2 separate regions of the Homo sapiens genome follow, and region 2 is linked to region 1. Evidence: fine-mapped expression QTL. Tissue or cell type: whole blood. Region 1 holds a variant in brackets; the other region holds the start of a gene. All regions are shown on one strand. Distances are from middle to middle.

Region 1 (2,682 bases):
GAGGAACCGCTCCTGTGACAGCAGGGCACATGGCCCCGGAGACGCAGGAGAGGCGAGGGTGAGGCCCACAGGGTAGAGTGGGGGGATTTGGAGTCATGGTCAGGGTTTGGATCCCAGCTCTGCTGTGTTCCGGTAATTATGTGACCTCAGGGGCCCTAAGTGAGCCCTCAGAACCCATTTCCCTATCTGGAACATGGAGGGAACCATCTCTTCAGGTAGCTGTGGTTCATGGAACACCAGCAGGTGGAAGCCACCCAAGGAATGGTGGCTGCTGTGTTATCACAGAACGTTAGTTCTCCAGCAGACCTGAGAAGTCATTGAGTCCAGTGGCTTACATGTCTTGACCTGCAGAGCCTCGTGTGGACACTTGTTGTGTGGACCAGATAGTAGCAGCACACCTGGGGTGGAGGGGCGGGGCTGGGGCACTGCGGGAGGCCTGGAGCCTTGCTCCTTCAGTGCTCTTCTCTCCCCATCGAAGCTTTAAGGAATACAGTTGAAAAGTGAAGATAGAATTACTATACAAAGAGGAAAGTGAAGACCAGAGGAGGAAAGTAACATGTCTGTGGTCACACAGCCAAAATCCAGTTGCCCAGTTCCCAATATTTCTCTCCCTACTGCATCGTAAGCCTCAGAAAGTAACTTATAATAAAAAGCTGTTGCTACAGTTTGGGGTTTTGCATGTGGATGTCCCTAATTTCAAATGTGATAGCCAGCTTATGTTACCTTTTTTTTTTGAGATGGAGTCTTACTCTGTTACCCAGGCTGGAGTGCAGTTGTGCAATCTCGGCTCACCGCAACCTCTGCCTCCTGGGTTCAAGCATTTCTGCCTCAGCCTGCTAAGCTGGGATTACAGGCACATGCCACCACGCCCAGCTAATTTTTGTATTTTTAGTAGAGACGGGGCTTCACCATGTAGGCCAGGCTAGTCTCAAACTCCTGACCTCAAGTGATTTGCCTACCTTGGCCTCCCAAAGTGTTGGGATTGCAGGCGTGAGCCACCACTCCCAGCCTATTTTTTTTAATTGTCACTGGATAGTTTGAAACATTCCCTACTCTATGTGCAGAGAAAAGTTAGGGTAGAATCAAGAAACAAAACCAGGAAGTCTTTCTTACTTCTGCATTGGAATCTTCTATCAGCTTTTGGTGTTGTAAATCATCTTCTGTTTTCTGCCCTCCCCTTACACCTCTGATCTGTCTATAATTCTGTTTCCTTGGATTGTAGCTGGAAGAGAGTGTTCCTAACCCACCCTGCCACCTGCTACAGGACCACCTGCCCAGGTATGGTCTGTCTCTTGGATTTACAGGTTCTTTCAGGGCCCTGGGCCCAGGCTG[C/T]TTTGTAAAGTGGCTTTTACAATCCTGGGACAGAGGGTGGGGTTGTGACTGGCTCCAGGGCAGAGGGATGGGGCACTTGGGGGGCAGAGGAGAGTGTGCTCTTGACTCCCTCAATGGTGTTTGCTCATTAAGAATGGAGTGGCGGCTTTGGGATTACTCCCCTGAACCAGTGTTGTGTGCATTGGTGAGAGGCAGAGAGGCAGGCACCGAGCACCAGCTTTGCAGACATCCTCAAAGCCAGCACCAAACTCAGGGCAAGATATCTGAGTGATTTCCTCCTCTATAAAACATAGTGGTTTGTCCGATGTCTGGAAGCCCATTTCCCTCCTCCATGTGAAAGGGGGTCATCGTATATGAGGTCCTAGTGAAGATTCAGTAGATAATGCCCATGGAAGTAATCCCTCAGCTGTAAAATCCCAAATTAACGTGAGGAATCATCGATGCCATTATGCATCATTCAGCATGGTTCACCAGTGTGCCCTCACTATCCCTCACTTGGGGTGCTAGTGACCCCACTGACCTGGGAGCTTGAAATTGCCCTTCAATGTGTAGGTGTCAGTCCTGGGGTGGATTTGTTACTCCCGATGAGTAGCCTGTCTCCCGGAAGCAATGCCGGCAGTTAGACACACAGGCAGGGCAGCGAGCAGTTAGACACACAGGCAGGCAGGGCAGCGAGCAGTTAGACACACAGGCAGGGTAGCGAGCAGTTAGACACACAGGCAGGGTAGCGAGCAGTTAGACACACAGGCAGGGTAGCGAGCAGTTAGACACACAGGCAGGGTAGCGAGTGTCCCTATTTGGGGTTAGGTGATCCCTTCAGTATGTTCACAAGGTTTACAGTTCCAGCACCACGGCCTCTGAAGCACAGGAGAATCTGAGAGTGGAGCTGTTTCTGCTCAGAAATTAGGGTTTGAGGACTTCCGGTTTGGAAACTAGAGTGAAATGGCTTTCAGTCCCAGCTTTGCCTCTTACCAATGATCTGACCTGGGGCATGTGACTTCTATTCATTGAGCTTCAGCTTCCTCATCTGTCATATAGGGTTTTTATAGTTCCTACCTAAGGTTGTGACAATGAAATGGGACCATGCGTGTATTGTGCTTAGCACAGTCCCTGGCACATAATAGATGCTCAGTTAAAGGCCACTGTCGTCGATCTCAGTGAGCCCCCAGCTATTTCCACAGTCTTCTGGCTGATACAACAGCAGCCCCAGCGAAGTGCCTAGACTTAGCCTCAATCTTTTCTGCCTTTGAAAAGTCTATATTTTAATTACAATGATGTGGCCATCAAGAAAGAGATTAATATTTGTAAGCAAAAAGGACAAGAAAATGCCAGTCCCAGTTGTGACCACAC
Region 2 (2,682 bases), 120 kb after region 1:
GGGAGCTGGAAGGCACCCCAGAGGCCAACACTTCCTGTCAGGCTCAACTCAAGGCCTGAATTCCCAGAGAGGGTCCCTCCCGAAGGGCGGAGGGGCCCCAGTAGGGGAGGGAGTGCAAACGGCCATGTTACAAGGAGCAGGACTGTGGCTTCCTCAAGTGTCTGAGACAGCATAAGCGCGCATTCAGTCATTCAAGCACAAAACTGACGTGATCCCAGTAGAATTTGAGAAGAAGAAAACCACCGGGTTAGAAATGCGAGAGAAGCTCCAGGGAGGGTTCACAGAAAGAAATCAAAGGTGGCCAACTCCTTTAACCCTGTCCCCCACGCCGGCTCCCTGCTGTCGGCAAAGACCCTTCCTGAATATATGAAGCTCTGTCTGGGACTTGGATCTTTTGCCTTCACCAGTAACCAGGCTACCCAGATGAGAAAAAGCAATGGGAAAGTGAAAGACAAGACTACTTTAGGGAAGCCGGTCCCAACAGGTCCCTTTATGTCAGTTTCAGGGATCAGAGCCCTCCGGGAGTGAGATTCCTGGGAATCTGAGCGTTCTCTTTTTATTACTCTCTCCCAGGGGAAAACAAATATAGAAGCAGCATTTCCTCCCGCAGGTTTGGCGGAGACCGGTCCAGCAAAAGAGAAGGCAAGAGGCTTTTCCAAAGGGAAGGGGTCTGCAGGAGGATGGGGGAGGGGGGAGCGCCCGCAGGGTTCCTCTTAAGGGGCAACTCCCTGTACTCCCTTTTCAAAAGAACCGCAATCGAGACTTGTAGACCAGCTCCGAGGCTCCGAGTGTGGGTGCTAAGCTGGGCGTCCGGCGCACCCGGGACGGCCCGCCCACCGGGGTTTGGCGGAGATCCTGGCCCCCGCCAAACCCAAAGCTCGCCCAGCTGCGCACTGAGCTAAGCCCTCGGGTCCGGACGCCTCCAGGAGCTCCACCTGCCGGGCACTCCATTCGGCCCCCGACCCTCGCATCCCTCCTTTCTTGGTGTGGGGGAGCAAAGAAGGGCTTGGAGAGAAACGATGACCCGAACGGCAGGACGTTTGGGGAGGCCCCACCTAGCCCGGGGAGGGTCTGCGCGCCCACTCCACTGCCCAAGCGCTTTGCCGGGAGCAGGAAGCCCCTAGCCCGGCGGGCGCCCGGGAGAAAGGACTCAACAGCCCGACCCTTTGCCCCCAGCAGCTCAGCACGGTTCCCACCTTCTTCGGGGCTTCCTCGGCCCCAGGCATCTTTCCTGTGCGGCGGGACTGAGGGTGGAGTGGGGTGCCGGGCTCACCCTCTCTCCTGCAACAGGTGAGAAGCCCCGCCACGCCCCCCACTGACGACCCCCTCCTTCCGCGCCCGGGAGGATCAAAGGGCTCGGGCCGCAGCAGCCACCTAGGAGCCCACCCGCCCAGTCCGCGGCGCCGCTGTCGCCCCCTCTTAGGCCCAGGTCCGGGCTGGGTGGGGGCAGTGGGCTCTGCTTATCCCGAGTCCTGGCAAGACGAGTCCTAGCCCTGCCCTCCGCGTCGCTGGGCGAAAGGGAGTGGGTGTGCGCCGCGCGAGGAACCCGCGCCCTCACCTTTGTACCGCTCCATCGGGGCCACGGAGTGCGCTCCTCGCGGCTCGGCTTCTGCGCTGCTCTCCCGGCGCTCGGCTCAGCGCCCAGGCCGCCGCGCTGGCCCCTCCCCGTGAGGTCACGCTCGCGGCCGGACCTCCTGGCGGGGCCGCCGCGCCCAGGGTCCTCGGACCTGGCCCCCGCCAGGGCTCGCCCCCAGCGCCCCTGTCCCAGCGCCCCTGTCCCAGCGCCGGAGAACTCCGGCCCGCCGAGGCTGACAGTCGGCTCTTGAGTCGGTGCGCGCCCGCGGCCCCGCTCGCCGCCCCCGGCCGCCTTGGCACTCCCTTCACGTCTTGACTCCGGGGGCGTCGAGAGGGAACGAGACTGGGACGTTCCCAAACTCTGGGGGAGGCTCCGGGAGGCCGGGCTTGGGTGGGCCTCCAAGATTGTTCCCACACCCCTGCCCGCTGCAAACCCAATGCCTGGAGGAGGAGACCGAGGTCCAAGCTAGGAGGTTGAGACTGGCTTAGAGCTCCTCGCGCTTGGCTCCCGAGCCAGCGCGCTTTTGCCCTAGGCCTTCCTGGAGGGGCGAGGAGGGCAGCGGGGCGGGCAACCAAACCTGCTCCGGGTTCTTTGGGGATTGCTCCCACTCTCTTGGAACCTCTCTGGGCAGCCGCTGCCAATCGCGCACACTTCAGGGTGTGTGAAAACATCTGCTTGCTGCTTTCTACCTGAATTTCCAGGGCCAACGCCACAAGTCAGGGAGTGCCGTTTCCGGGGCGCCCAGTAAACCTGACCGCCTTGGAGGGGTGGCGCCGGTTCCATAAGGAAGCTCGGCCATGGCTCTGAATCTCCACCCTGCACTGCCTCCATCCAGAAGTGCCACACTTCCATCCTTTGCCTTTTGCCACCGGTCCTTCCAGGCCCTTAATGCGACCTAGTCTTCTCCGTGCTCCCCCCAGAGATCTATGTGTTCTTTTAAACTTTTTCAGTTTTCACTTTAAAATCTCAGTCACGGTTTGTGCTGGGTGCCTGGTTGGTTACCTAAGTTCCCCAGCTTCCTTGAAGGAACAATTAAGGAAGATTTGGCAGTGGTGGTTTTCTAAAAGACTTCTTAATTCTTCCTTGGAATCGCAGATTTAGTTGTG

The links. PIP is the estimated chance that this variant, and not a neighbour inherited with it, causes the effect.
Region 2: AFAP1L2 starts here. The variant in region 1 is fine-mapped to the expression of AFAP1L2 in whole blood (TOPMed, PIP 0.96).

The regions. Positions count from the first base shown.
Region 1 is chr10:114,281,294-114,283,975 of GRCh38, forward strand. VWA2 (von Willebrand factor A domain containing 2) reads left to right here. Exons shown (of 14, transcript NM_001272046.2): 9 at 1,223-1,278. It also overlaps a transcript of AFAP1L2 not described here. Among named protein-coding and RNA genes, the nearest start is that of VWA2, 43 kb to the left of the region's middle. The variant C/T (reference allele first, on the strand shown) is at 1,333.
Region 2 is chr10:114,402,882-114,405,563 of GRCh38, forward strand. It overlaps AFAP1L2 (actin filament associated protein 1 like 2), which reads right to left and starts at 1,621. Exons shown (of 19, transcript NM_001001936.3): 1 at 1,559-1,621. The coding sequence starts at 1,574. RefSeq lists silencers at 776-825, 1,623-1,702 and an enhancer at 1,656-2,156.